Linked DNA regions of Homo sapiens: all the other regions are linked to region 3. The links come from fine-mapping of genetic effects on gene expression. A gene starts in region 3. Each other region holds a variant in brackets. All regions are shown on one strand. Distances are between the middles of the regions.

Region 1 (6,393 bases), 24 kb before region 3:
GAGAGGATGGTTGCCAGGCAGCACCCAATGACCCATGCCACTTGAACTAGAAGTGGCCTGCTAGTCCCATAACTTGGTTTTGAAGACTTCTTGTCCCCAGTTCTCAGAAGGGGGAGGTGGAAAGCTTCATTATGCTCTTGTTGAATCCTCAGGGTTTTTCCCTTTAGGTGCAGATGGCTTTACTGAGAAAAGCCCTTTTTTTCCAGCCTGGACTTGGACTCTGGCAGCAGTGGCAGTGGTGGTGCCATCACTCTTCTGGCACCAGACTTCCTTCAACAGCCATTTTATCACTCACCCTCCCAAACTCTGTGGTTTCCCAGAGCAGTAGATATGATTGACTCAGTAGCCAGGGACTTCTGGGAGCATGCAGATGTGTTTTTGCACAGGCTGTCAGGTGATGGGATAGGATCCACTGTGCAAGCCTGGATCTCAGGCTTCTTTGGGCTGGCTGACCAGGACCACAAAACCAGCTGAACTCCAGCTTTCAGCACCATTTATTGCCTTTGGCAATTCAAGTTTCCCCAAATCTTAAAGTCCTCATGCTACTGGAGTCACTCTTTCCTTTCAGAACCAAAGGCCATCACTTTGATTCTTTTGCCAAAAGAGAAACTTGTTTTTCTTAAGGCCACTGTATCCAGAACTCTTGTTTCACAAGGTATAGCCCACCACTTCTGTGTTGGGAACAGGCCCCCCAAAATCTGGCCATAAACTGGCCCCAAAACTGGCCATAAACAAAATCTCTGCAGCACTGTAACATGTTCATGATAACCATAACACCCACGCTGGAAGGTTGTGGGTTTACTGGAATGAGGGCAAGGAACACCTGGCCCACCCAGGGTGGAAAACCGCTTAAAGGCATTCTTAAGCCACAAACAATAGCATGAGCAATCTGTGCTTTAAGGGCATGTTCCTGCTGCAGATGACTAGCCAGACCCACCTCTTTATTTGGGCCCATGCCTTCCTTTCCCATAAAGGATACTTTTAGTTAATCGAATATCTATACAAACAATGCTAATGACTGGCTTGCTGTTAATAAATACGTGGTTAAATCTCTGTTCAGGGCTCTCAGCTCTGAAGGCTGTGAGACCCCTGATTTCCCACTTTACAATTCTGTTTCTGTGTGTGTGGGTTTAATTCCTCTAGTGCCGCTGGGTTAGGGTCTCCCCGACTGAGCTGGTCTCAGCAAGTGGTGTCCATCATGGGGACTCAAATCCAGGTCGAAGGGTCGCCGGAGCAACAGTTGGAGAATGTGGAACTAAGCTGGAGGACACCTGAGTACTCTTAAAGCAATCCCCGTGGTGAGTAAGAAGGGGAGCTTGGAAGCATCAGGGTAACAATGGGACAAGTGTGGGGTCTGGTTCATTCCACCTAGGAACTTTTTCACACTGATGAGGAGGAGGAAGGAGAGTATAACAAAGTAACAGAAGAGGTTACAGAGCAGTTTTATTTACCAGCTGAAGCTAAAGTGGCAAAGGAGGGAGAGGTTCATCCCTACCCTTCTGCACCCCCTCCTTATTATTTTGAAGAAAATGACCTTCCAGATCTTTCTTTTCCGGAGGACACTGGGCAAAAAGTAGTTGCCCCAGTGACTGTTCGAGCAGCACCTAGAGCGACTGCTCTTAGTTCTAGTCAGGCAGGAATTCAGCAAGCTAGATGAGAGAGTGATTTAGAGGCTTGGTGATTCCCTGTTGGAATACACCCCCCCAGATCAACAGGGAAATATTATAGCTACATTTGAGCCCTTTCCTTTTAAATTACTCAGAGTAGCCAGATCCACCCCTTTATTTCGGCCCATCCCTTTGTTTCCCATAAGGGATACTTTTAGTTAATCGAATGTCTATAGAAACAATGCTAATTAATGCTCTGAAGGCTGTGAGACCCCTGATTTCCCACTTTACACCTCTATATTTCTGTGTGTGTATGTTTAATTCCTCTAGCACTGCTGGGTTAGAGGTCTCCCTGACCGAGCTGGTCTCGGCATTTCTGCCAAAGAAAAGACTCCTCCTCTTTCAACATTAGCTGTAGGCACATCTGTATATATACAAACAAGAATAGAAGGGTGTGATGAGGAGAGGTGACGGGATTGTTGAAGTAGATATAGACACAGAGAGATACACTTTATATGCATTTAGAGATAGATGGAGAGGTATATATACATAGAGATATATTTTGTATGTATCTTAAAATTGGCCAATATCAGATTTTTTTAATGAACCAGAGAACTATGATCACATCACTCTTGAAAATATAGGCATGACTAGAAATACTAGACTGTCTCATCTCTGATGGCATATAAAAAATATCTGGGGGTGGCTGGGTGTGGTGGCTCACACCTGTAATCCCAAAACTTTGGGAGGCTGAGGCGGGCAGATCATGAGGTCAGGAGATCGAGAAACCCCGTCTCTACTAAAAATACAAAAAAAAATTAGCTGGGCGTGGTGGCAGGTGCCTGTAGTCCCAGCTACTCGGGAGGCGGAGGCAGGAGAATGGCGTCAACTCAGGAGGCAGAGCTTGCAGTGAGCCGAGATCGTGCCACTGCACTGCAGCCTGGGCAACAGCGCAAGACTCTGTCTCAGAAAAAAAATAAATAAATAAAAATAAAAAATATCTGGGGGTATAATTGAGAATAAAACAACTAACGGCATAGTCCTAATGCTGTCAAATAAATTTTTCAGCTTATTTAAGGGGAATCTGTGATGCTACTATTTGTGTGTGTGTGGGTGTGTGTCTGTCTGTCTGTGAAACACACAGAGATCCTAATTTCACAGTTAACGTAATCAGCATTATGTGGAAAAGTATCCTCTACTTGGAGTAATCCACCAGTAAAAAATGAGTTTAGAATTTTCTGGCACTTGTGCTCTGCATACACAAACCAAAGAAACCCTTTGGCATAATGCATCCAGAGTCATCCCAAGAAGTTCACTGCATGACACTGTGGTGTTATTCCAGACTGGCACCTTTGTAGATGCAAGCTATGAACTAGAGCTGGGTACCCTGTCCTTGCTCTCACATGTATATATGAAAGGAGACAATGCAAAGGACTAATGGAATTGTAAAAAAGATGGGACAGAGGGTATATTGATAAAATAACACAAGGAAATTAACATTTCGTTTTCTAAGACTTTTTTTTTTTTTTTTTTTTGAGACAGAGTCTTGCTCTGTCGCCTAGGCTGGAGTGCAGTGGCGGGATCCCGGCTCACTGCAAATTCTCCCTCCCAGGTTCAA[G/A]CAGTTCTCCTGCCTAAGCCTCCTGAGTAGCTGGGATTACAGGCACCCATCACTGCGCCTGGCTAATTTTTGTATTTTTAGTAGAGATGGGGTTTCACCATGTTGGCCAGGCTGGTCTTGAACTCCTGACATTGTGATTCACCTGCCTCGGCCTCCCAAAGTGCTGGGATTACAGATGTAAGCCACTGCGCCTGGCCTTCAAAGATATTTTTAATGTACCAGTGGAAACTCCCCTACAGCTTGAAGATCCATGATGTATCCTTGGAAGTTACAAAAATAGAAAAGAAAAAACACAAATGAAGAAACACAACCAAGAGGCTTGAACTTGATGTACAATTTATTTATAATAAAAAGGGAAGCTTCATGATATGCATGTTAATACTAACAAAAATGCTAACAAAGTGGGAATATTAATGTTCATAGACTTTGTTTAATGATTTCATGGAGGGGCTATTGTAACTTTTACTGTCATTTTCTTTCTGTTTCAATGTTTAAAGGGAAACTCACACATGATAACAGCTCAGTATTATGGATGGATATAAGCTCATTGAGTCAATCCTTGAGAGATGGAGAGTGAAGTAACTTCCAGTTCCCATTTGGAACTCTCAGAGCTAGGATAAAAACTCCTTGTCATGAATTCACAGGATGAGAAAATCTAGCATCCTCCCATGTTCTGCCCATTTGCCCGCCTTCAGGTTTGACTTTTGAACTTGCCAAAAGGGAGAAAAGTCTGGACAAGTCCCCTTTTCACCTTTTCTCATTACCTTGGTTTGGTTCCAGTTTGTACGTGGTACAGACTTCCAAGGAAGTGATGGTCATGGAGAGGAGATCATATTTGCCATGAAAATGTTTTTGTTATTCAGGATTCAGGGAAATCATTCACAGCCTGGTTCCCATGCTTTCTCTAGGGGCAATATGGAGCTTAGAAACAATTATCTAGGTCATGAAGTGAGGATGGAAGTTAGGTGCTATCCACAGGACTGAGTCAAAATGCTCCGTGTGTGTGTGTGTGTGTGTGTGTCTGTGTGTGTGTTTTGAGACAGAGTCTCACACTGTCGCCCAGGCTGGAGTGCAGTGGTGTGATCTCTGCTCACTGCAACCTCCGCCTCCTGGGTTCAAGTGATTCTCCTGCCTCAGCCTCCTGAGTAGCTGGGATTACAGGTGCCCACCACCATGCCTGGCTAATTTTTTGTATTTTTAGTAGAGACGGGGTTTCACTATGTTGGTCAGGCTGGTCTTGAACTCCTGACCTTGTGACCCGCCTGCCTTGGCCTCCCAAAGGTCTGGGATTACAGGTGTGAGCCACAGTGCCCAGCCCTCTTTGTGTTTTAAAGTGCCTGTGGCTTCTTCTTGCCTTAGTTTTGCTCTCCAATTTATTGTGTTTCTTGTTCCCCCATCCTTTGCATTATACTAACTTTGCATCCAAGAGAGGAGGCCTGAATTGGTGTAATAAGACTGATACCTTTCTCCTAAAGATGATGCCCTGGTGAGCTTTGCAGCATGTCAAACAGGGTCTGAAATTAATCCTCATTGAAAGGGAGTTTGGGAGGTGGAGGGTCATCTTCCTATGGATTCCAGAAGGAAAAAAGATGAACAAAGGCATAGAAAACCTATTAAACAAAATAATAGCTAAAAACTTCTTAAGTCTTGCAAGAGATATAGACATCCAGGTACATGAAGGTCAAACATTTCCAAATAGATTCAACCCAAAACGGTCAATTCCAAGGCTCATTATATTCAAACTATCAAATTCAAAGACAAAGAGGGAATCTAAAAACAGCAAGAGAAAAGCATAAAGTCACATATAAGAGCATTCCCGCAAATGAACAGGGACATTACAATTGATACCATAGAAATAGAAGAGGTCATTAAAGACTATTATGAGCAACTATATGCCAATAAATTGGAAAGCCTAATGGAAATGGAAAAATTTCTGGACACATACAACCACCAAGATTGAACCAAGAAGTAGTAGAAAATCTGGACAGACCAATTACGAGCTACAAGATTGAATCACTAATAAAAAGTGTCCCATCAAAGAAAAGCCAAGGACCTGATGGCTTTATTGCTGAATTATGCCAGATATTTAAGAAAGAACTAATACCAATTCTTCTCAAACTTTTCCAGAAAATTGAAGTGGAAGAAATTCTTTTATACTCATTCTATGATGACGTTACCCTCATACCAAAACATGAAAAGGGCACAACAAAAAAAGAAAACCATAGGCCAGTATTTCTGATGAACAGAGATGCAAAATTCCTCAAAATAAATACTAGCAAACAGAATTCAACAATACATTAAAAATATCATTCACCATAATCAATTGGGATTTATTGCAGGGATGGTTTGACATATGCAAACCAATCAACATGATACATAACACTTACAAAATGATGGACAAAAAGAAAATGACAGTCTCAATAGACACAGAAAAAGCATTTGATAAAATTTAATATCCTTTCATGATAAAAATCTTCAACAAACTAGATATGAAAGAAGCATACATGAATGCAATAAAGACTACATATAACAAACCCACAGGTAGCATTATGCTGAATAGGGAAAAGCTGAAGTATTTTCCTCTAGAAACTAGAACAAGACAAGGATGCCCACTCTCACCACTTTAATTCAACCCAGTATTGGATGATGTTCTAGGCAGAACAATTAGGTAAGAGAAATAATTAAAAGACATCCAAATTGGAAAGAAGGAAATCAAATTTTATGTGTTTGCAGATGACATGATCTTATAAATAGAAAAACCTAAAGAATTTACAAAAAAACTCTTAGAACTGATAAATTCAGTAAAGTTGTAGGATGCAAAATTAGCAGACAAAAATCAGCAGCATTTCCATATGCCAACAATGAACTACTTGAAAAAGAAATAAAAAAGCAATCCTATTTCAATAGCTACAAAATAAATAAAATACATAGTAATAAATTTAAATGAGGAGATAAAAGATCTCTACAAGGCAAACTGTAAAACATTAATGAAAGAAATTGAAGAGATCACAAAAATGAAAAGATATCCCATGTTCACAGTTTGAAAAAATTAATACCGTTAAAATGACCATACTACCAAAAATGATCTACAGATTCAATAAAGTTCCTATTAAAATATGAGCTATTCTTCACAGAAGTAGAAAAAATAATCCTAAAATTCATATGGAA
Region 2 (6,393 bases), 35 kb before region 3:
TTTACACACTACAATTACAGTGTTATAATATTCTATATTTATCTATGTACTTATTGTTACCAGTGAGTTTTGTATCTTCAGATTCTTTTTCTTTTCTTTTTTTTTGAGATGGAGTCTTGTTCTGTCACCCAAGCTGTAATGCAGTGGCATGATCTCAGCTCACTGGAACCTTTGCCTCCTGGGTTCAAGTGATTCTCCTGACTCAGCCTCATGAGTAGATGGGATTACAGTTGCCTGCCACCACACCTGGCTAATTTTTGTAGTTTTAGTAGAGACGGACTTTCACCCGGCTGGCCTTGAACTCCTGACCTTGTGATCCACCCGCCTCAGCCTCCCAAAGGGCTGTGATTATAGGCGTGAGCCACTGCGCCCAGCCAGATGTCTTATTGCTTGTTAACATCCTTTCTTTTTTCAGATCGAAGAACTCCCTTTAACATTTCCTGTAGGATAAGTCTGGTGTTGATAAAATCCCTAAGATTTTATTTGTCTGGGAAAGTATTTCTCCTTCATGTTTGAAGGATATTTTCACTGGATTTAATATTGTAGAATACAAGTTTTTCCTCCAGCACTTTACATATATAATGCCACTCTCTCTTGGCCTGTAAGGTTTCCACTGAGAAATCTACTGCCAGATGTGTTGCGCCTTTATATGTTATCTTTTTCTTATATCTTGCTGCTTTTAGGATCCTTTCTTCATCTTTGACATTTGGAAATCTGATTATTAAATATCTTGAGGTAGTCTTATTTGGGTTAAATCTGCTTGGTATCCCATAAGTTTCTTTTTCTTTTTTTCTTTTTTTTAATTCAGGTGTCCTTTTACTGCCGGCAACCGAGAGATGGCTAGAGCTCAAAATTCTCTCGGCCCTGAAGAAGGGGCTAGATTTCTTTTTATACTGTGATCTAAATAGGGGATGGGGAGCCTAGCTGAAGCAATTTTTACGGAAGCAGAACAGGCAAAAAGTTTAAAAAAATTAATGGTTACAGAGATAGTTACAGAAATATAAACAGTTCCAGGTGCAGGGGCTTAAACTATCACAAAGAGATAAATGCAGGGGCTTGGGTACCATCCACTGAGCACATCCCCAGCAGCTGCTGGTACAGCTTGCCTCAATATCTTATCAGTAAGTGCATTCCTGGATGTGCTTGGAGTCAGCTTGCACTAGTTATTCCCCTAAGGGAGGGGGGATAAGGGGGCTGCAAGTGAAGAAGCTAAAATGGAGTCTGTCCGGCTCTCTCAGCTAAGAGAGAGTCACTCAGGTTAAAACAGGGTAGGGTATCACAGATAGACAGTTGATATAATTGATAGATGATAGATTACTTTTATGGGTCCTCCCCTGTCCATTAAGACTGAAACTGTGTGTGATTATGTTTCCTTGAATCATTACCACTTTTTTCTTCCTAAGCGTGTTACCTTCCTATTTCACCATAGAAACTTTCAATATTTTGCTCAGAAACTCAGGGCTTTTGGGTACTGCCCTCCCACTGTCTAGTTTTTGTGCTTTCTTTTGGGGTCCTCTCTGGAGGCCACAACCATCTTTGGGGCATGCCCAGGAGAGAAGGAGGTGGATCTAGTTCCCTTAGAATGGCTTTGGTGATGCTCTTTGCTGCAGACAGACTACAATCTGCTCCAACATCCCTTCCCCCTTTCTTTTTTCTTTGCCTCCCCTCCTCTGCCACATCTCTATTCCTCCCAGCCTTTCTCCACTCTTCTGTACGCCCATCATTCTCCTCCACTTCCAAGGTCACAGGCATCACCATGTAAGCCTCCCATCCCAGATAAGCAGCCTCCAAGATGACCCATGATCCCCACCTCCTTGTATGTACATCGTTGTGTAGGACCCTTCTGCACTGAGCAGGGCTGAGCTGTGTTAGCACTAGGATATATGGGAATGACAAGGTGGCATATGACTTCCAAAGTTAAGGTCACTTTGCTGTCTCGGATCACTAAGGCAGCTATCATGTTGTGAGGAGGCTCAAGTTGTCTTGTGGTGGGTCCCTGTGGCAAGGAACTGAGCTCTCCTGCTGACAGCCAGCAGTGCCTTCCCAACCATTAGAGTGAGTCACCTTAGAAGCAAATTCTCCAGCTCCAGTGTATCCTTTAGATAACTGCCACTCTGGTCATCATCTTGTCTACAACCTCATGAGAAACCTCAGCCAGAACCACCCAGCTAAGTTGCCTCTGAATTCCTGAGACACAGAAACTGTGAGATAATAAATGTTTACTGTTTTAAGACTCTAAATTTGGAGTAATTTGCTATTCAGCCATAGAAACTAACACTCATTTCATCATGCCTGACACTGATATCGCTACAGTTTCACATCCCTGTGGCTAAAGCTCTCCAAGGGCTCATCATTAATTTCAGGATAAAATCCAAATCCCTTAACATAGAATAGGTCTTTTATGAACTGCCTCCTGCATGCCTCTCAGCCCCATCCGGCCCACTCTGCCTTTCCTCCTTGCATCACTCCAGCTACTCTGAAACACACTGCACCTTCCTAAATGTGGACAGATAAAATTGCCAGACTTTTCATAGGATGCCCAGTGAAATTTGAATTTCAGATAAATAACAAATAATTTGTGT[G/C]GTTATACAATATTTGGGACATACTTATACTAAAAACATTGCATGACACATACTTATTCTTAAAAGTTATTATTTTATCTGAAATTCACATTTAATAGGGCATCCTGTACTTTCCGTTGCTAAATCTGGCAACGCTACAGATGCGAGCTGCTCACTTTCACCTCCTGCTCAGTCCCCAGCTGGATCACTACAGCTCCCCCTGACTAGCTCCCTGCCCTGCAAGACTTGGCCCAGACATCAGTGCCCCTAGAAAGCCTAGACTAACTTCTCTGCCCTATACACACCTAGGATGAGTCAGACGTGCCTGCTGCAGGCTCCCGCCCACCCGTCACACCTCTCTCACACCACACACTTTGCAAGTATTTGTTTACCTGTCTCCAGTACTAGACTCTGAGATTCTTGAGGTCAGGAACTGTCTTACTCACTGCGACGTGGCTTCAGTGCCAAAAACATAGTATAATTAGTTTATACTTACTGAAGATTTACTCTAAGGTAGTCGCTGTTCTAAGATGTTCTGCATATATCAACTTATTGAATTTTCATATCAAGCCAAAGGAGGTACTATTAACATCCCACTCTTACTGGGGAGGAATCTGAGACAGAAATAGGTTTTGTGACTTCTCCAGTGTCATTTGAAAATGGCAGGGAAGTTGGGGTTCAAAGCCAGGAGTCTGACTCCAGAGCCCACCCTCTAACAAACTAGACACATTGCCTCTTTACAGTGCATGATAAGTGCTTGCCAAATGCATGTTAGAACTGACTATCCAGCTAAGTTTCTCCAAACTAGATAACTGCCTTTAAGCAGGGACCTTGCTGCCTGTGCCCCTCCCAGCTCTCTCTCCAGTCACCACTACTGAGCACAATGCATGGTGCCTTCTTCACAAGCAAATACCTTCTCCCTTCTTCAAATCCTGACTACAGATCCAGGGTAGCACCATCTACCACACCTCCCTAAAAAAGAATGGTTATAGGCAGGGAGCAGCGGCTCACGCCTGTAATCCCAGCACTTTGGAAGGCCGAGGCGGGTGGATCACCTGAGGTCAGGAGTTTGAGACCAGCCTGGGCAACATGGCGAAACCCTATCTCTACTAAAAATACAAAAAATTATACGGGCATGGTGGCACGTGCCTGTAATCCCAGCTACTCAGGAGGCTGAGGCAGGAGAATCCCTTGAATCTGGGAGGCGAAGGTTGCAGTGAGCCGAGATCGCGCCACTGCACTCCAGCCTGGGTGTCAGAGTGAAACCCCATCTCATATACATATATATATATAGTGGTTACAGCATATGCCTTAGAAATATAAGCCAAGAGAGCACTGTGATTAATACTGTCAGTTCTAGAGTAAAATTCCCTGGGCTTAGATCCTAACTGTACTGCTTATTAGCTGTATGGTTTTGGATGAGGCCCTGAGACTTAGATTCTTCATCTAAGAAATGGAGATGTAGCATCTGGAACACAGCATGTACTCAGTAAATGTCAGCTGTCACCATTGTCATTGCCAATCCACTCAGCCCACGGGCAGGTATGTATGGTCCTGGCAAAAGTTGTTAAGAGGAGGCCGCAGGCGCTGGGGAGCATGCGGAGAGGCTGCGTGGAGCTGCGTGCTCCCGGGGCTGCATGCCCAGTGAAGCGCATGAAGGGCGAGCGGTGATGGGTTCTGCGCCAGTGGGGCTGGGAGAGTGTGGGGGGCTGTAGGTGGAGCTGCGCGCAATGTGGGAACTGCACGTGCGGGCTTGGGGACTGCGCACATCGGGGGGCTGCAGGCGTGGGGGAGGGTTTGGGGGGCTGTGCATGGGGCTGCCCTCACGGAAGGCTGCACGCTCGGGGACGCGCGGAGGCTGGGGTGCTGCGCGCCGCTGGAGAGCACGTTGGGGGACATGCAGGGACTGCCCGGGCGAAATGGTTTGACTGCACGCCCTCCACCCCACATTTCACAGTCGCCATGACGACTGGGAGGTCCGCAGCCGCTGCGGTGGCCGGTACAAGTAGTTGAGGCTGCGAGGCCAGTGAGGCCTTTCCAGACCTCGCCCTACTGGGCTGGGCTGCGTGGGAAATTGACCCAGCTCCACCAGAACAGGAACTATGAGAAAATAGTTGGGCAAACGAGGAGTAAGCTCAAAAGCAGCGGCTCCACAGCCATTTCAATCTTCCCGCCCCAGCCAGTTGAAGCTGAGGGGCCTCCCAAGCCAGGGAGCCAGAGATGGAGGAGGAGGTGGAAGAGTCCGGGCTGCCTCTGTAGCTTTGGACCCTAGGCAGAGGGAACCTGCCAGGGGGCGGGAGGAGGTGCGCAATCTGAGACCTCCAAATGGCTTGCAGCTGGACGTGATTGCCAAGACCCTTCTGGGCTGCTTCCAGTTGTTACATAATTTCCTGGCGCAGCTCCAGGAAAAGGTGCACAAACTGCAGGCGCCTCAGTTCTCCAGGAAGACCACTCTGGGCTTTGGTGTGGAGAGGGCAGGAGAGCCCTAGGAGGGAGCCGCATGGCGCTTTTCTTGAGTCTTGAAGGAGATCAGTTTAATAAGCAAGGGTTTGTGGGTGCCCAGTAGCAAATAATAGCAAGGTCCGAGCTCTGGAAAAGCGTGGCAAGAATCGCCAAGCTCCATTAGTTCTTGTTTTAAAACATTTTCAGGGTTTTCTGACAGTAGTCACCCCTATGTCACAATAAGGAAATGGTATCTGAATCAGGGCAGCTAATTATCATACTTGGTAAAAATGATTAGCTGGCTCTTGAAGAACAGACATGTTTCTCAGCACCTCCAAACATGGGCGGCAAGAGGTGAGCTGGAAGGTGCTGATCACCAGGCATTGCATGGCGGGGCTCCCGCCCACCGGCCTGGACCGGCCGCGCCACCTTCCTCAGCGCTGCTGTGCACCGAGTCCTGTAAGCCCTATAGGCCGCTGCTACTGTTCGGCATGCTGAAGGAGGACTGCGCTGCGCGGGCCCCCAAAGCCACGCTCCCCACGGCCCCGCCGCGGGAGCGGCTGCGCGGGGCTGCCAGGGCCTTCGCAGCAGCGCCGCCCGAGGCGCTGGGCTGGTGCCCACTGGGCACCTGAGCCGGGAACCGCCCCGCGGTGGCCCGAGCGCCCCCGCCGCCGCCCGCGGTCCCATTGGCTCCTCCGTTGCTACTGGAAGGTAGATCCGAGCCCCAGTACGTGCGCGTGCGGCTCCTCTGCTTGGTGCCCATGTCCGCCCTGCCCCGCCAGGCGCGCCCGGAGAGCCAGGAGGGCGGGAGCGAGCGCGGGAGCTAGAGGGCAGGGCCAAGGCGCAGCAGCCGGCCCAGAGAGACCCCCCGCACGTCCAGGGCCGCCGCCCCAGGGGAAGTCGGCGCCCGGCGCGCTCTTCCTGGGGAGGTGGGCGAGGCTGGCGGCCTGACGCGGGCACGGGAGACAAGGAGACGAGGAGACGTGGAGAGGAAGGGGTCTCGGCTGCGGGCACACCTCGCTGGCTCTAGCAGGAAGAGGCGGCTCAGGTGTCCGTGTGGCTGCCTCTGGTTTAGGTTCTGGTGCGCCATGAAGGCCACTGCCGGTCTGGGCGCGCTGGGCGCCCCGGGCGTCGGGCACCGCCTCCTCTGGGGCTGTGGCTGCTACCGCAGCCATCCTCCGGCTCCCAGGGCTGCTGGCGGCTGAGTGGGAGGCGCCTGCCCAGACTCCGCCGGCGCCACCTTCCCTCTTCCCACAGCCACCCAGTTGTTTTTAACGGAGAAAGAGGAAAAACGGGCGGTGCGCCAGGGGAGGACGAAGAATGGGAGGGAGGGGTGCTGCGCGCTTCCCGGCAACCGTCGCCTCGCTCCCCCTGGGCTGGGCTGGCGGGA
Region 3 (6,228 bases):
TGTGCCCCTCCCAGCAGAGACACAGGCATGGTTCTGGGGTCTGAAGGGGAGGAGTGTGGTTCTGCACCAGTAGGCAGGTGACACTGGTGCCTGGGAATAAACATGGAAAGGGAGTCTTCTCCTACCCCCTCACTCAATGCTCCAGATAGACCGTTGGCTGTCCCTACTGGGAGCTGGCACAAGTGCACCTGGGGATGGCTTTTGAGGGCTCCTGGGGGCAGCTGCACTCCCATTGATGGGGTGCCTGCTGGCCAAGCCTTGCACGAAGGGCAGAGTTTATCCTCCTCCCCATATGGAGCAGCAGCATTCCCATAGCAGAATGCAGATGAATATCAGAGCTGCTGAGGGAAGAGGTTCTATCCCAAGGCCATTTTGGTGGTAGCCACAGGACGGGTGTTTTCTGCAGACCTCCATCACACTGCAGCCTGGAGATGAAGGACAATGTCTATCTGAACTGAAGGTCACAAGCTCCGGGACAAGGGTGTTTTAGGAAAGTGGATTGCCTTCCTGCCTTCCCAGGATGTGGAGCTGGTATACTCCTTCCCACTCTGGTGGAGACATCAGTGCCTTTCACCATGAGCTCCCATTTCCACTCCCATCAAGGCAGTTGCTTCTGCTCATAATTGGGGTTTCCCAGGGTGAGCTTGGTCGTTTAGTGCCCCTCAGTTTTGTGTCCCCCTCCAAAGCTTTGTGTTCCCTTCAGGGAATCAGGCCATCCACAGACCAGCCAACTGCCTGTGACAACAGAGATCCCCTCCCAGAAAACAAAGACCAAGTACCCATCAGCTTATGCCACAGCCAGCTTTTATTGGGATGCAGATTGAATTGCACAACCAAATAAAAAACAGGCTGACAGAGGGTATAGTGCTGGGGAATGAGATAAACTTTCAGAGACTTCCACATTCCCAGCCCCTCAGAAGGTAGTATTCCTGCTCATATGCCCAATACATTGCTACTACAATCAGCATAATAAAGCCACCACACAAAAGCTATCTATACAGCATAATAAAGCCACCACACAAAAGCTATCTATGACCAAGGAACTCATACAGAGCTGTGACCCACGGAAGGCACCCAAAATTGAAGCCAAATGATCACACACAACATACAGTCACACCTTCAAAGGGGGAAAAAATCCCATTCAAATGAGAGTAAGTTCAAAAGTAAGAAGTAACGGGTTCTCTAGATGAGAAGAAATCAGCATAAGCACTCTGGAAGTACGAAAAACCAGTATTTTGACATGCCCAAAGGATCACACCAGCTCCCTAGCAATGGATCCTAACCAATATAAAAATTTTGAAATAACAAATAAAGAATTTAAGATATGAGTTGTAAGGAAGCTCAATGAGATACAAGAGAAAGTTGAAAACTAACATAAGGAAATCAGAAAAATAATTCAGGATATTAATGAAAAATTTACAAAAGAGATAGAGATTAAAAAACAAAAACCAAATAGAACTTCTAGAAATAAAAATTTATTGAAGGAACTATAAAATATAGTTGAAACTTTTAGCAAAAGACTAGACCAAGCAGAAGAAATAATTTCAGAGCCTGAAGGCCAGTCATTTGAATTAACCTAGTCAGACAGAAATACAGAAAAAATAAATTTTTAAAAATGAACAAAGACTTTGAAAAATATAGAATTACATAAAGTTACCAAATATACAATATATAGACATTCCTGAGGGAGAAGAAAAAAAATTAAAAGCTTGGAAAACCTATTTGAGGGAATAATTCAGGAAAACTTCCCTGGTCTTGCTAGAGAATTAGACATCCAGATAGGAGATGCTCAGAGAACACCTGGAAGATGCTTTACAAGAGAAACCTCATAAAGGCATATCGTCATCAGACTATCCAAAGTCAATGTGAAGGAAAACATCCTAAAAGCAGCAAGAGAGAAATGTCTAATCTATACAGGAAAACCCAACAGACTAACAATGGACTTCTTAGCAGAAACCTTACAAGCCAGAAGAGATTGGGGTCTTATGTTTAATCTACTTAAACAAAAATCCTGCCAGCCAAGAATTTTGTATCCTGCTAAACTAAGCTGCATAAATGAAGGAGAAATAAAGTTTTTCCCATACAACAAATGCAAAGGGAATTTGTCACCACAAGACCAGCACTACAAGAAATGCTTAAAGTTCTAAACATGGAAATGAATGGACAATACTCCTCATCATAAAAGCACATTAAAGTGAAAAACTCACAGATTATATAAAGCAATTACATAATTGAGACTAAAAAGCAACTGGGTAACAATTATCATGACAGGAACAAAACATCACATATCAATATTAACCTTGATAATAAATGGAGTAAATGTTCCACTTAAAAGATACAGATTGGTGCTGGGTATGATGGCTTACACTTGTAATCTCAGAACTTCGGTAGGCTGAGGCAGGAGAATTGCTTGAGACCAGGAGTTTGAGACCAGCGTGGGCAACAGAGTGAGACCCCATCTCTGTAAAAAATTAAAAAGAGAAATTAGCCAGGTGTGATCATGCTCACCTGTAAAGAGGCTGAGGCAGGACAATCACTTGAGCCCAGGAGTTTGAGGCTGCAGTGAGCTATAAATGCATTATGGCACTCTAGCCTGGGTGACAGAGTGAGACTGTCTCAAAAAAAAAAAAAATACATACAGACTAAAAGATTGGATAAAAGTAGCATCAGCTCAGGGGTCCTAACTAGTTACAAGAACAGTGCACAAGACAAACACCAGCTAAGATGGCAGGGAGAACAAGCCTGAACAAGGCAAGGCAGAGGTCTGCTAAGGGAAATCCATCCCACAAAAGACAAGCAAGGCAGGGGCTCTCTGAGGCCTAGAGCAGCATGCAAAAGAGCAACTCTTTCCAGGTGGCAGCTCCCTAGCTGCTGCCCCCACATGCTGCTGCCTCTGCAGCCACTCTACCTGCCCCACCCCTGCCCAGGTATTCCAAGCAGCTCTCAGCTCTTTCCCAATATCTGGGCAGTGCTGTTGAGACAAAGGAAGAGGAGAAGTGGACACAGCAGGTCTTGGCTCTTAAGATCTGCAGTTGTGAGTTCCTTTTGCAATCGCTGTAGGTCATTGTGCAACCTGCTGGTCTCTGGACTCCTGATTTCTAGACATCTATAAAATACAGACACTGATGATGCCACTTAATTCACAGAGCTGCAGTGAGAAAGGTGCAGATGAGTTCAAGGCCTGATAGTGTTCTGCAAACTATAGTGATGGATGTGCATAGTATTGTGAATATCAGTGGCAGGTTTCCAGAACGCAGGTGGGGATAAGAGTGAGTGAGTCAATAAAGAAGAAAATTGCCCCACTTCTTGAAGGGAGTTTTTGGGGCTGGGCAGCTCAGGGTACAGGGCAGGCATAAATAGTGAGTGCCTGCCAAGCAAAGGCTAGTTTGCTTGGAGCTCCTGGGGCCTAACAAAAAGAAACCTGTAAGTGTCTCTGTTCTTGCCTTCTTTTTATTTTCTCCACATCCTATAAATATCCCTCTGCCGACCTGGGCAATTCAACCTATTGGTGTGGAGGGTCTGTGTAGCTGTTCTGGTCTAGGAGGCATGGGCGCAGGAGGTGGGGAGCACAGGAGGTCTTATGGTGCTCTTCTGCCCCTTATTCAGTGGCCTCAGCCCAGGGGAGGATTTGCTTTCTGAGCTGGGGGTGCACAGGGTGGAAGAGTGGGTGTGACACTATCTAGACCTGGGATGCCACAGTGTGGAAGCTTCAGGTGGAAAAATGCAATGCTAATTTATCTCTAGGCTCTTTTCTGCACTGATTTCTTCAGAAAGGACAGTGGAAGAGAGACAAACCCAGGCACTCACAGGCTGGGGTTCTAAACCCATCCTGGTGCCAACAGCCTGTGGAAAAGCAGGGCAAGCCTGTTTTTCTCATAGCTTCAGGTCTTTACTTTAAAAAATATACTTACTGGAGTAGGTCTCTGATTTTCCAATCCATGTTCAGAGGAGATGGCCTTTTCAATGAAATTGTACTCTGAAAGCTTAGCATAAACTGGGCACTGCAGGGGTTGAGGGGGACCACAACTCTGCCCACTCCATCTGCTGCCCCAGCTAAGATGCCTCATCTGAATCCTGGGCCTGAAAACCCGGGTCTGCCCTCTCCAAGTGTCCTTCAAGCCACAGTGGCTGCTGGTGCCTTCTGTGCCATCTTGAGCCTGTAGACAGAATGCCTATTGCCTTTCATTCTTCCCCAGAATCAGACACAGGGCCTGAGGGGTGAGGGAGCTGCGGGGCACAGAACAATGCCCTTGCTCTGGCCTGGGTCTGGCCCTTGCTGCTCATGATTGAGCCTCTGCCAGAACAGGTGTAACAAGGTAGCCGCTGCTGGCAGTGAGCTCACCCAGGTGTTTCTAGAGACTACCAGGATACCCAAGGAAGTGGTGATTTCAAAATTGAAAGAGGCTAGTGAGAAATAGGGGTCATCCACAGCCCAGAATCACCAGCAGTCAAAGAAGAAGGCACTCCTCTGGGCAGGAAGCCCCCCACTTGCCACCACCCCAGTTGGCCTGGTGACCCCTTTCTTTGCACAAGTCCCTCTGGCTTTGTTCCTAGCCTCTGCGAATCTGATCAGCTCTTTTCACTCTCATAACTTTACGGTTTCTCATTGAGAGAAAAGATACCCAAAACAGTTAATGTCCCAGGTCCTGCTCTTATCCTGGTCTCAGTTCCTGACCATCTTAGATAGTAAATGGGTGCCCTGTTGGGTAGTTGCTCTTGCTTACCCACAACACTAGCTTTCTGCCTGACTGAGCCTACCTGGCATGTCCTCTTTCCATATAAGACTTCTTTTTTTTTCTGAGATGGAGTCTCACTCTCTTGCCCAGGCTGGAGTGCAGTGGCACGATCTCGGCTCACTGCACCCTCCACCTCCCGGGTTCAAGAGATTCTCCTGCCTCAGCCTCCCGAGTAGCTGGGATTACAGCACGCACCACCACATCTGGCTAATTTTTTATACTTTTAGTAGAGATGGGGTTTTGCCATGTTGGCCAGGCTGGTCTCGAACTCCTGACTTCAAGTGATCTGCCCGCCTCGGCCTCCCAAAGTGCTGGGGTTACAGGCATGAGCGACCGTGCCCAGACTCCACATACTTCTTTTCCAAACCCTCTCAGGTCTTAGAAGAACTCTAGGTGTCTCAGGATTTCTCCTACTGCTAGTTTAGTGTCTCTGAAAACTTTCACCTGGGTTCCCTCTGGGACTTTTCTCTAGAGACAGCACCTGCTCGAGGAATGGCAAATTGCCAGGCAAATGTGCACCACACTCCCAGCCTGCGCTCAGGAAGGACATTACTAAGCACTCAGGACTCTGGCTGCATTTTCAGACCAGCACTATCAGCACCAGTGCTAGTCCATGCAAGGCAGCAAGAGAGAAGAAACAGGCTTGCCTTGTCTGAGCTAAGCCAGTTGCCTCAGTGGTACAGACAGGGAGATGGTCTAGGGAGTGGGCGGGGGGTGTCCTGCCCAGAGGCACTCAATGAACCCTTCTTGATGTGACAGATGGCCCCAGTGAGGAATGCTACATCCTAGCCACTGTGCCAAACTTAGTGCCCAAGGGAAGGCACAAGAAGGGAAGACATGAGCACCTGGGAATGGGGGATGCTGCTGTCAACCTATGTCAGAGTTCCAGCTGGGTAACTCATGCTCTCCATCCAGACCTTGTGCCCTCCTTGTCCTTAAACTGCTTTTGGATTCCTGCTGCTCTAGGCCCCATAGCAGAGGACAGAAGGAGGGAATGGGGGCTTCTTGTCACCTCTAGAAGCTGAGCCAAGCCCTAAACCATGTCCATGAAGCATAAGCATGTCTTTTCTCTTTCTGTTCACCTCTCCAGGCCATGCTGCTCTTCCTCCTCTCTGCACTGGTCCTGCTCACACAGCCCCTGGGCTACCTGGAAGCAGAAATGAAGACCTACTCCCACAGAACAATGCCCAGTGCTTGCACCCTGGTCATGTGTAGCTCAGTGGAGAGTGGCCTGCCTGGTCGCGATGGACGGGATGGGAGAGAGGGCCCTCGGGGCGAGAAGGGGGACCCAGGTAGGGTGGGGCCCTGGGCTTATCCTGCTGGGGAGGAATGGTCATTGGAACTGTAACTAGCCCAGCAACTCTGGGTACTTTGTTATGGAAGTCTGGAGACGTGTTTCTTCCTCCCAAGAAGGCGAGTTCCACACTGCTCCACCAGCTGGCAAACAAGTGGCTGTGCTGAGCCCCCATGTGCCTCCTCCAGCACCCAACTG
Region 4 (6,393 bases), 54 kb before region 3:
GTCTTGATCTCCTGATCTCATGATCCACCTACCTCGGCCTACCAAAGTGTTGGGATTACAGGCGTGAGCCACCTCACCCGGCCTTTTTTTTTTTTTTTTTTTGAGATGGAGTTTTGCTCTTGTTGCCCAGGCTGGAGTGTAGTGGTGCTATCTAGGCTCACTGCAACCTCTGCCTCCCAGGTTCAAGCGATTCTCCTGCCTCAGCCTCCCAAGTAGCTGGGATTACAGGCGTGTACCACCACGCCTGGCTAATTTTTGTATTTTTAGTAGAGACGGGGTTTCACTACATTGGCCAGGCTGGTCACGAACTCCCAACCTCAGGTGATCTGCCTACCTCAACCTCTCAAAGTGCTGGGATTACAGGCATGAGCCACCATGCCCAGCCAGCATTGAACACCTTTAAGTCTTGTTATGTGGATGGTAGAATGTGAGTGAGAAGGTGGGTGAGGTCCTGGGTCCTGTTGGGTTTTTGTTCAAGGCTGAAGAGACTTGAAGAGGCTCCGTACCCAGACCTGGAGGTTCAAGGCATTTGTACTCTCCTGGGAGGCCCTGGCAGATCAGTAAGCCATTCTGCGGCTCCAGGATTCATCCTGCACTGAGTGGTTTTGTAGCAGGAGCGGAAAGGTGTCCCACAGTGAGCACCCGGTGGAGGTCAAAGTTCCTTCTGAGGCTTGGGATCTCCAGCGTCCTGCATCCCTTCCAGAAAGACCTCTGTACCCTCTCGGAAGACCCCCAGGCCCCCAAGCCTGCCCCATCTTTCTCTGAACTCGGGTCTGAGAAACATGAAAGGAAGAGTCAAGGAGAAGTTTGCCCTTCTTGCAGACCAGTCCTGGTCCAGTTTTTGTCAGTTTTGAAGAAGCACATGGTGACCATGTGGGGACTTTGCCTCTGGAACTGAAATCACTCTTTAGCCTCTGGAGGGGAAATTGTGGATTCAGTAAGTAGTGGCATAGTCATTTTTTTAAAAATTGGGATATAATTTGTATACTATAAAATTTGCCATTTTAAATGCTATATATTTAAATTACTATACAATTCAACATCTTTAAGTATATTCTAAAGGTTGTACAATCATTACCACTATCTAAACTCAGAACATATTCTTTACTCCAAAAATAAATCCTGTACCTATTAGCAGCCACTCCACATCCACATTCCTCTCCTTCCCTGGCAACAGCACTCAAGCCATCCTCCCTGGCTTTCTTTCATGTTCTGTAGAGACAAGGTCTTGCTATGTTGCCCAGACTGGTCTCGAACTCCTGGACTCAAGATATCCCTCTGCCTTGACCTCCCAAAGTGTGGGGATTACAGGCATGGGCTACTGTACCCGGCCTTGGACATTTCATATAAATGGAATGACACAATATGTGGCCTTTTGTTTTTGGCTTCATTCACTTAGCTTGCTATTTTCAATGGTCATCCATATTGTATTGTACTTTATTCCTTTTTAAAAATTTTTAATTATACTTTAAGTTCTGGGACACATGTGCAGGACCTGCAGGTTTGTTACATAGGTATACATGTGCCATGGTTGTTTGCTGCACCCATCAACCCGTCATCTGTATTAGGTATTTCTCCTGATGCTATCCCTCCCCATGTCAACCTCCCCCAATGTACTTTATTCCTTTTAATGTTCTTTTTGTTCATCCATTCCTCAGTTGATGAATATTTGGGTTATTTTCACCTTTTGGCTATTATGAATAATGCTACTATGAAGACTAGTGTACAAGCTTTTGTGTCATCATAGGTTTACAGTTTGCTTTTTTTTTTTTTTTTTTGAGACAGAGTCTTGCTCTATCTTGCCCAGGCTGGAGTGCAGTGATGTGATCTCGGCTCATTGCAGCCTCAGCCTCCCGGGTTCAAGCGATTCTCCTGCCTCAGCCTCCTGAGTAGCTGGGATTACAGGCGCCTGGCACAACACCTGGCTAATTTTGTATTTTTAATAGAAATGAGATTTCACCATGTTGGCCAGGCTGGTCTCGAACTCCTGACCTCAGGTGATCTGCCCGCCTCAGCCTCCCAAAGTGCTGGGATTACAGGCATGAGCCACCATGCCCAGCTTGTTTAGTTTTCTTAGGTATGTATCTACTAGGGGAAGTGCTGGGTTATACGGTAACTTTATATTTAACCTTTTTGAGGAACTCAAAATTGTTTTCCACCTTCAGCTTCACCATTCTATATTCTCACCAGAGATGTATAAGCACTTCAGTTTCTTTATATCCTTGCCAACACATTGTTTTAAAAAAAACTTATAGTCACTCTAGTGAGTGGTGCCATGGTGTCATTTGTGGGTTTTTTTTTTTTTGTTTTTTTTTTGAGATGGGGTCTTGCTGTGTTAGCCAGGTTAGTCTTGAACTCCTGACCTCAAGCAATCCTCCTGCCTCGGCTAGGAATACAAGTGTGAGCCACTGTGCCAGGCCTCATTTTGTGGTTTTGGTGTGCATTTTCTTAGTGTTTAATGATGTTGACTATCTTTTAATGTGCTTATTGGCTTTTGTGTTTCTTATTTCCAGAAAAAATTTTCATTTTGACCATTTTAATTTAATTAATTAATTAATTTAGACAGAGTCTCGCTCTGTTGCCCAGGCTGGAGTGCAGTGACACAAACTCGGCTCACTGCAACCTCCACCTCCTGGTTCAAATGACTCTCATGTCTTGGCCTCCCAAATAGCTGGGATTACAGGCATGTGCCACCATGCCCAGCTAATTTTTGTATTTTTTTAGTAGAGACAGGGTTTCACCATGTTGGCCAGGCTGGTCTCAAACTCCTGACCTCAAGTGATCCACCCACCTCAGCCTCCCAAAATGCTGGGATTACACACGCATGAGCCACTGGGTCTGGCCTGTCATTTTGCCCATTTTTAAATTGCGCTGTTTGTGTTTTCATTGTTGAGTTTTAACCATTCTTTGTATATTCTGCATATTAAATCCATAACAGATAAATGATTTATCAATATTTTCTCCCGTACCATGTGATGACTTTTAACTTTCTTGACAGTGTTCTTTGATGCACAATAGTTTTTAATTCTGATGAAGCCAATTTATCTAGTTTTTGTTTCGTTACTTCTGCTTTAGGTATCATGTCTAAGAAACTGTTGCCTAATCTAAGGTCAGGTAAGCTTACTTCTGATGGTTTCATAGTTTTGACTTGTATGCTTAGGCCTTCCTTCCCTTTTGAATTAATTTTTGTATGTAACTTGAGATAGATATTCAACTTCATTCTTTTCCTTGTGGATAGCCAGTTGTTCTAATACCTTTTCTTGTAAAGACTATACTTTTCCCATTGAATTTGTCTTGGCATTGGTGTTGAACTCAATGGATCATAGATGTATGGGTTTATTTCTGGACTCTAAATTCTATTCAGCTGATTTATAAGTTTTGTCTTATGTCAGTACCACACTTTCTTTCTTTCTTTCTTTTTTTTTTTTTTTTTTTTTTTGAGACAGAGTCTCGCTGTGTCACCCAAGCTGGAGTGCAGTGGCACAATCTTGGCTCACTGCAACCTCCACCTCCCGGGTTCAAGCCATTCTCCTGCCTCAGCCTCCTGCATACCTGGGACTACAGGCCCCTGCCACCACACCTGGCTAATTTTTTGTATTTTTTTTAGTAGAGACGGGGTTTCACTGTGTTAGCGAGGATGGTCT[C/T]GATCTCCTGACCTCGTGATCTGCCCGCCTCGGCCTCCCAAAGTGCTGGGATTAGAAGCGTGAGCCATGCGCCCAGCCCACACTTTCTTGATTGTTATATCTTTGTAGTAAGTTTTGAATTTGGGAAGCGTAAGTCCTCCAATATTGTACTTCTTTTTCGAGATTAATTTGGCTATTCTGGGTCCATTGCATTTCTAAATGAATCTTAGGTTCAGCTTGTAAATTTCTGCAAAAAGGCTGTTGAAATTTTGATAGGAAGTGAATTGAATCTGTTGATCTCTTTTGGGAGTATTAGTTGATCTCTTTTTGGGAGTTTAAGTCTTCCAATCCATAAACATGGGATATTTCTCCATTTATTTAGATCTTTTATATTTTCTTTTAATAACATTTTGAAGTTTTCAGTGTGCATATGTTGAATCTTTTTGTTAAATATATTTCTAAGTATTTTATTCTTTTTGATGATATTGTGTATAGGTTTATTTTATTTTCATTTTTGAATTGTTCATTGCCAGTATACAGAAATAAAACTGATTGTTTATTTCTTTTTTTAAAATAGAGACAGGGTTTCACCATGTTGCCCAGGCTGGTCTCAAACTCCTGGACTCAAGCAATCTGCCCACCCGGGCCTCCCAAAATGCTGGGATTACAGGAGTCAGCTGCCACACCTGGCCTGATTTTTAAAATTTTTGATCTTGCATTCTACAACCTCATTTACTTGCTATAACAGTCTTTAGATTCCTTTGGATTTTCTCTATGAGAGGTCATGTCATCTGAAAATTTTCACTTTTTCCTTTCCAATATAACACCTTTACTTTCATATTCTTGCCCAATTGCAGTTAGCAATTTTGCTTCTCTTACATCAGCTAGGTTCTGGTAAAATCCCTGTTGGGAAGGCTCTGGTGAAATAGGTTCTTTCGAGGGCATCCCTTAAGAAGAAGAGAATGCTCTGAGCATATTTCATAATGTCTACTTTTCCTCTCATCCTACATAAAGCACAAGGAGAATTTTCTCTGATCTTTACTTTGAGAACCTGGTAGGACTCTTGGGACTAAAGCCAACAAAGGCTGGACTATCCTGGCATTTTTAACTCTCAAGCCTGGCCATACTGTGCTTCCAGCAACTCTTGATTGCAGTGCAGCTTTTCCTATTCTGCCAATGGTTTCTGCTAGTCAGTTTCTGCTCCTTGTTTTGATTCTCTGCATCTTCCTGTCTGTCTTCAATTTAAAGGGCAGCAGTTTGCCTGTGACCTCACTTCTCTCATAAATCTAGGAAGAGTTATTGATTTTCAGTTTAACTGGTTTTTTTTTTATGTTTTGTGGATGGGAGTGATGACCTCCAAGCATCTTACATGCCAGATCAGAAACTGGAAATCCAATAAATATATTATGGCAACATTTAAAAAACTAAAAATTTGTGCAAAAATTCACGATGAACAAGATATCGAAGTTTTAAATAATATCAGGATCTAACTCTAACTTGCACAAGTGAAGCCACTTCACTGGTAAATCATATCCTGGCACTGTTTTTCATAAAACTTTATTTATAAACAACAAATATCCATTGTGTTGGCTATAGTTTGTCAATTTCATTCTTTATAAACTGTTAGATTAAAATACTTTTTATCTTCATTACTGGGTCTCTTTCTGCATTCCAGGTGAGTTTTCACTTGCCTTACCTAGTTCTGGACCTTCCCTCTGATTCCATTTCATACAAAAGTCAGCCCTACAATGGCTTCATGGCCCTTTATTTTTATTTATTTATTTTATTTTTATTATTATTTTTGAGATGAAGTCTTGCTCTGTTGCCCAGGCTGGAGTGCAGTGACGCTATCTCAGCTCACTGCAACTCTGTTCCCGGGTTCGAGTGATTCTCCTGCCTCAGCCTCCCCAGTAGCTGGGATTACAGGCACGTGCCAGTAGGCCAAGCTAATTTTTGTATTTTTAGTAGAGATGGCTTTTTGCCATGTCAGTCAGGCTGAGGTTGAACTCCCGACCTCAGGTGATCCACCACCTCGGCCTCCCAAGGTGCTGGGATTTCAGGCATGAGCCACCATGCTTGGCCCCATGGCCCTTCATGATTTGACCTCCATCTACTCTGTAACCTCGCTTCCTCCTTCCCTGCATGCACTCGCTCTACTCCACTCATAGTCTCTGCCTTGCTATTTCTATTTCTGGGGCATGCCTATCTTGCTCAGGGCTTTTACGTCAGTGCTTGACACTTTGGGCCTGATCCATACCTATTCATTCTAATTAATCCAGTCAACAAATATTCATTGTGTGCTTACTTTTGTAAGGCATTATTTTAGGCTCTGAGACAATATCAGTAAACAAGATAGACAAAATCCAACAATCTCTGGAGCTTTCAATTTAGTGTGTTTGGGAAGGGGTGAGAGGGTCAGAAAGTAATCATAAGTGAAATAGAAATTATTACTGAGAAAATATAGCATTGTGAAAAAAGGAAATAAAATAAGGGGGATTAGGAATTTTTGGAGAATTGCAGCTTTAAATAGGTAGATGAAAGTAAGCCTATCTGAAAAGGCCACCTGGCAAAGGCTGAGAGGGGGATGAAGGAGTGATTCAAGGGATATGGGGATCATGAGAGGTCAGGAAGCTTTGCAGGCAGAGGTTGGAATGCCTTGAGGTGAGAGGGAGCCTGAGATGTTTAAGAAAAAGCAAGGAGGCCAATACCACTAGATGGTGCCTATGTGAGGCGGAGGGGTGGACAGTAGAAAATGATGTCAGAGAGGAAA
Region 5 (6,393 bases), 410 kb after region 3:
GTTTGAGTTTGTCCCCAACAAAACTCATGTTGAACTTTGATCCCCAATGTGGCAGTGTTGGGAGGTGTGCCTGGTGGGAGGTGTTTGGGTCACAGAGACAGATCCCTCATGAATGACTTGGTGCACTCCAGCTCTCTCATGAGACTGGATTTAGTTCTTGTGGGAATGTTCCTGCAGGAATGGGTTGTTGTAAAGCCAGGATGCCCCTTGGGTTTTTTCTCTTCCCACGTGTCCACTCACCATTGAGATTTTCCACCATGTTATGACATAGCACAAAAAGCCCCCACCAGAATCTGAGCAGATGCTAACACCATACTTTTTGAACTTCCCAGCCTGCAGAACTGTGAGCCAAATAAACCTCTTTTCTTTATAAATTCCCCAGCCTCAGGTATTCTTCTATAGCAACACTTATTGGATTAAGACAAGTACTAAAATAAGAAAAATCTCTGCCAAACCAGAATGAGTTAGTCGTCCTATTCTAGCATGTGCAAGCAACGTCCATTTGCATGGCTTTGCTTAATAATTTGCAAGCCTGACCTATATTCACAGCTCACAGGCTGAGAACATAGTCATCTGTTGTAATTTATATAATCTTGTGACAACACCTGCCAAAAATCATATTAAATGGCTTGTGACTTTTCTTGATCCTCTTCCAGCCTTTGACACAATATATAAGGAAAAATATGAACTATCCTGCTTGTAATTTCCAGTGGGTAAAACAAAGATGTGCCCTGGATCCTTTTATTTTTAACTTGAAACCATATTGAGATAGCCCATGAGTTTGCTTTCCTACTGACCCACATAACTGTTAGGCACAGTGCAGGCCACTGACCAGCATCAGCTCCAAAGGATCAGTATCTGTGCCCTGCAGGTTGTTGCATATGGTAGGGCCCCGCCACCCTGCTCTGCAGTGGAGCACAGAAGGTCAAGCATTCTCTCAGATGCAAATAACCTGATGTGGGTATCATGGACTAGGAGTAGTTTTAGTAGACAATGAATACTGCTATCTAATGACATCCAGAAACAAGGGCTACCAAATCTGGATCTGAAATAATCATTTTAATGGAAATCCCCCAAATTTAGGGAGATTTATAGGAAATAATGATAAACAATAAATCATTTAGTTACTTTGGGTGTACATTTCACAACCAGTTTTAACAGGGCTTATTGCTCAAAATTAGATGGGCCGCAGGTATGTGTGTGTGTGCACATGCTTATGTGTATGTGTAGCCAAACAAGATATATAGTTACATGCCTGCTTTACATTTTTTCTGGGCTATTTTTATTGCCGTTGCATTTTATGATGTGGAATTGTAGGGAATCAGTTACCCATTCATTGCCCTGTTAGGGAACTCTCAAATTTCCTCCTGAAGAGAATCTTGGCTCTGCCTGCAGGGACTCCCTTGATGCACTTTGGAGGGGATGTGGGTTGGCCTTCTCTTCAGAAACACGTTGACTTTCTTCTTTCTTTCTCTTTCTTTCTTTCTTTCTTTCTTCTTTCTTTCTTTCTTCTTTCTTTCTTTCTTTTCTTTCTTTCCTTCTTTCTCTCTCTCTTTTTCTTTTTTCTTTTCTTTCCATGTGTGAGGCAAAGATTTAGTTCTTCATTTCTTGCATTTGAAGTACTGTTCGATGACATCCTTGGCCTGAGACTCCTTCCATAGTCCTTAACTACTGCACAACTGCAACCAACCACTTTACAGGGTTTCCCCTCTCTGTCAATTGTACAGGGGCCTTCCCATTCCCCTAGTTTCTTGTTGTCATCACCCTTGATTAGGTTGATTTGGTGTTCAGCACAATGGGCCTTCACCAACTTGACATACATAGGCTTATCACAGTTGGATGCAAGCACACAAAGGTGGGCTTGGCGCTTGGCGGCAGCAGGGAAAGAGAGAAATGTTCTTTCTGGTGCATGAGTTTTCATAAGAGGATCTATGTCAAGCCACGGCTCAGTTTGTTATTAAGGTATATGGCTCGTCTCTTAATTGGCAATGGAAAGTTCCAGCATTCCAAGTAGAATCTCAACCTCAGAGCCACACTATACTTTTCAAAAGCTTGGCTAAGAGAAATGCTACTCATGGATAAGTGCCTGCAGAGTGCATGCTGTATTCAATCCTCTGGACAAATATTCTTAAATCTATTACCAATTTAGCCAGAGCCATGAACCTGTGAGCTTGACTGCTTCCCACTGACTCCTTGAAGAATGACTTTTAATGCTTTGTGCTTTGGTTGAGGGACATGATACACATTATACAAAGCATGGTTTTGAACACTGATCCCCATCTGTTGCAGGGATATTGTTGAGGATGTGGCTTCCCTATGAAGCCTCTCTATGAACACCTAGAGGAGAATATGCTCTTTGGTCCTCAGTATCTGGAATAGTTGTGCTTTTTCTTAGAAACCTGCAAATATTCTGGATCTCACAATGTGTCATATATCCCTCTCCCCATCAGCAGCTAGGGTCTTAGAGCCAAACCAGTGAACAACCATGAGTCCACACAAAGAGGGCTAATCACTCGGGTTGGCACAGTCAGTGAGGTGGCATCAGAGCCTGGGGTATAGGCAAGATGCCGTAGTGGCTCGATCTGCCATGGGCAGATCCAGATGTTGAGTGTCAGGGAACCCTCTCCCTAGAGGAGGGTTGGCGATGAACATGGATCCTCCAAACCACCCTAATGCAGGTGCCTGTAGGCCATCACTGCCCCTGAGGGTTAGGGCTGGGGTTAGGGTTAGGTACGTTAGCGTGATGACATGGCACACCTGGTCCTATACCTACAC[C/T]CTTCTCCTCACCAGCTCTGTATCCTTTATTAACACACATGGATGGCATTGTTGGGAGCAGCAGGAACTGCATGTGAATCAAATGCCATGTGCTTTCCATTGTTTCACCCATCACAGTCCCCAGGGGTAGGTATATTCACACCCCAAAATTCACTTCTATTATGTGAGCCAGGGAAGCAGTATAATAGACATTAGCAGTGTGGGCTCTGGAGTCAGGGAACCAGTTTCAAATCCTGCCTCCACCTCTCACTAACTGAGAGGCCTTGGGTGAGACATTTAGTCTCTTTATCTATAAAACAGGAACAAAACACTGCTTACAAACACAGCTGTGACAGGAAACACATTACATAACCACTGTGAACCATTTAGCACAGAGCTTGACCCAGAAATAAATGCTACAAAGGCATGTATTGTGGTGGTGAAGACTTCGGTTTTTTGGAATTGGATACACCTGGGTTCAAATTCCAGCTCTTCCAGGGTCAACTGTGAAAACTTCGGCAAGTTTCCAACTTCATTAATCCTCATCTTTTACAACTGCAAAATGGGGAAAATAGTGCATACAAAACTCATGGCCCACTGCTTGAGATGAACTGTGTGCTCCATAAGTGATAGCTTTAGCCACTTGTTATTTTACTGCTATACCAGAGAGAATGCAGCTCAAGCTAAACAGGCAAGAGGGAATGTCTAAGGTGATTCTGCAGAGCTGCCAACCCTATGCGGCAACTGACCTCCATCTCCAACACATGGTAGTAACAGCTGCTTAAAAGGATTGTGTTCTATGTTCTAGGCAATGAGCTGAGAGTTTTTATATTTTTGTTTTACCTGGGACTAGGTATGGTGGATCTCAATATTTTGGGGGCCACAAGTACTGTATCAGACTGGTTTCAATCAAGAGATAGAAACCACAAGTGGTTTATGCAATGGAAGTTTAATATAAAGAATTATTCAGCTATGATAAAAGAGCAACTATATGATATAAAGAGAACCTTATAGGGCTACTCTCCCTACAGGTGGAGAAGAGTACCCAAGAAGGACAAGCTTGGAATGGGGCCCCCTCCCCAGGCTGGAGATCAGACATTGTCGGAGAAGGTATCATTGCAGCCCCCTACATGGCAGAGAGATTTGCTGGGTTGCATGGTCTAGAGCTGGTTGCAATTATTGGACAAGCAGGAAACAAACCTCCACAGCCCATGCGAGCCACACTGCTGGGTTGAGTGTATGAGCATGTAGAATGATTGGGTCTCCAGTGCGGACAGAAGGCATGGATCGCGTGGTGCCTGTGTTGGGAGGATACTAAGAGGGCGATCACCATGCCAGGACAAGACTAGTTGCCTGGGACCTTCTGGGCACGTGACTGGAGCAGAGTACCACTGGATCTCCTCACACCAGCCAGACCCAGGAAGAGAAACTCCTTTCACCTGCACTGTTCTCTCAGCACCCTCCGCTGAGAAAGCTTCACGTTATGCTTAGTGTACAGGAGAAATGCTCATGGGAATCCTGTCCATTATCACAGAGCAGGTATTAGTGGGTGAATATGGAGCTGAGAAGTAATAAGTTGTAACTGGTATAGATATCATGGGGGCAATTGTAGAACGCCGTGAACACATATGCATGGGTCCATGTATTCATGAGTGTGCACATATGTGTAATTATTCATACAATTCATGGTGGATACTACTTCGAGGGTGTTCACAGACCCCAGGTAGAGAGCGCCTGGAGGGAAAATTATCCAAGGCAGGCCCATTCACAGTTCCAGGGCAGCCAAAAGAAAGCCTCCGTTAAGCACCAGAAGTCTCCGGGGCAGGTGGGGCCAGGCAGCATGAAAGAATTGGCCGCAAGAGTTCCAAACCCTGTCCCAATTATGGAGGGTGACTTTTCTTTGTCCTCCTTCTCCATTCCCTTCCATATTGCTCATGCATCCAAAGGGAGACCTGAAGACTCTCTAGCAGGGCAAGGCCATTTTCTTTTGGCATTTTTCTCTCCCCAAAGTCTAGCTGATTATCAGCTTAGTCACACAGCAGGCTATGTGCTGTGAACAACAGGCATCCTGGGTTATTTTACAAACTCATGGATAGTCATTTTGAAACCACCTTTGCAAAATTATGACTGAAACAGTGAAAGAGAGCTAACTTAACCAGCTCCATCTTGTTTCTAACCTCCAAGCTGTCTTTGTTCATTCCTGGGCGTAGGCTGAACTAACTTTGGGAGAAACTTAGTTTGTAGTTATAGTTTAAACAAAGATGGTAACAGCCCTTTCCCAATGCAGACCTCCTTCTTGTCTGGGGACTAGACTAACATTAGCCACAGGATTAGAAATTACGGTTTAGGAGTCACGCAGCTGGAGGCTACAAGATTCTGACCCTCCCTAAACTGCTTCTAAGATCAGTGCTTGAGACATGTTGCAGACCCCGCACTTGCTGGATCAGCTGACGCCACACAGATGGATAAACTGCCTCGTCTGATCTTGTGGCCCCCACCCGGGAACTGACGAAGCGCAAGAAGACAGCTTCGACTCCCTGTGATTTCATCCCTGACCAACCAGCACTCCTGGCTCACTGGCTTCCCCCTACCAAGTTATGCTTAAAAATTCTGCTCCCCGAATTCTCGAGGAGACTGATTTGAGTGATAATAAAACTCCAGTCTCCCGCACAGCCGGCTCTGCGTGAATTACTCTTCTTCTATTGCAATTCCCCTGTCTTGATCAATCGGCTCTGTCGAGGCAGCAGGCAAGGTGAACCCCTTGGGTGGTTACAATTTTGCTCCTTCAACAAAACTCCAAGTTCCTCTTTGATAGTGGCAAACACCAGTTGCCGTATTTTCTACTGTTACTGGCACAAAAAGTCCCTGTTCACAGCCCTGCTGGACGTAAGGGCCCAGGTGCTAAAAAGTTACCCCCCACCTCACCCCAGCCTCATCAGCGGGACTGGATACTGGCAGTGGGCAGAGGAATGAAATTTATTTATTTATTTTTCTTATTTATTTTTGAGATGGAGTTTCGCTCTTGTCACCCAGGCTGAAGTACAGTGGCACCATCTCAGCTCACTGCAACCTCCGCCTCCTGGGTTCAAGCAATTCTCCTACCTCAGCCTCCTGAGTAGCTCGGATTGCAGGCTCTCCTGCCGCCACACCCAGCTAATTTTTGTATTTTTAGTAGAGATGAGGTTTCACCATGTAGGTCAGGCTGGTCTTGAACTCCTGACCTCAGGTGACCAACCTGCCTCGGCCTCCCAAAGTGCTGGGATTACAGGCAGGAGCCACCAAGCCCGGTCTTTTTTTTTTTTTTTTTTTTTTTTAACATGTCATGCTTTTATTGTACTGTACTGTACTGTACTGTACTGTACTGTACTGTACTGTACTGTATTGTATTGTATTGTATTGTATTGTATTGTATTGTATTGTATTGTATTTTGAAACAGAGTCTCACTGTGTTGCCCAGGCTGGAGTGCAGTGGAGTGATCTTGGCTCACTGAAACCTCCGCCTCCCAGAGTCAAGCAATTCTCTTGCCTCAGGCTCCCGAGTAGCTAGAACTACAGGCCATGCCCAGCTAATTTTTGTATTTTTAGTAGAGATGGGGTTTCACCATGTTGGCCGGGCTAGTCTCAAACTCCTGACCTCAG

Alleles and levels. Alleles are on the strand shown, and positions count from the first base shown. SD is a standard deviation of normalised expression in the study named. Not every link is listed here.
For the expression in cerebellar hemisphere of the gene that starts at base 3,384 in region 3, C is the low allele of the variant in region 4 and T is the other (moderate effect, 0.48 SD a copy in GTEx).

Evidence for each region. PIP is the estimated chance that this variant, and not a neighbour inherited with it, causes the effect. A credible set is the group of variants that fine-mapping cannot tell apart.
Region 1: its variant is the best candidate, but not a certain one, in a credible set for the expression of SFTPD in esophagus mucosa (GTEx, PIP 0.86).
Region 2: its variant is the best candidate, but not a certain one, in a credible set for the expression of SFTPD in pancreas (GTEx, PIP 0.56).
Region 4: its variant is the best candidate, but not a certain one, in a credible set for the expression of SFTPD in cerebellar hemisphere (GTEx, PIP 0.66).
Region 5: its variant is the best candidate, but not a certain one, in a credible set for the expression of SFTPD in whole blood (TOPMed, PIP 0.71).

What each region holds. Positions count from the first base shown.
Region 1 is chr10:79,970,367-79,976,759 of GRCh38, reverse strand. It overlaps a transcript of SFTPD not described here. Among named protein-coding and RNA genes, the nearest start is that of SFTPD, 24 kb to the right of the region's middle. The variant G/A (reference allele first, on the strand shown) is at 3,226.
Region 2 is chr10:79,981,539-79,987,931 of GRCh38, reverse strand. It overlaps a transcript of SFTPD not described here, the pseudogene ZNRF2P3 and the pseudogene DPY19L2P5. Among named protein-coding and RNA genes, the nearest start is that of SFTPD, 36 kb to the right of the region's middle. The variant G/C (reference allele first, on the strand shown) is at 2,583.
Region 3 is chr10:79,946,261-79,952,488 of GRCh38, reverse strand. SFTPD (surfactant protein D) reads left to right here and starts at 3,384. Exons shown (of 8, transcript NM_003019.5): 1 at 3,384-3,423; 2 at 5,827-6,028. The coding sequence starts at 5,830.
Region 4 is chr10:80,000,136-80,006,528 of GRCh38, reverse strand. No RefSeq gene overlaps it. Among named protein-coding and RNA genes, the nearest start is that of SFTPD, 54 kb to the right of the region's middle. The variant C/T (reference allele first, on the strand shown) is at 3,645.
Region 5 is chr10:79,539,565-79,545,957 of GRCh38, reverse strand. It overlaps the pseudogene RPS12P18. Among named protein-coding and RNA genes, the nearest start is that of SFTPA2, 18 kb to the left of the region's middle. The variant C/T (reference allele first, on the strand shown) is at 2,776.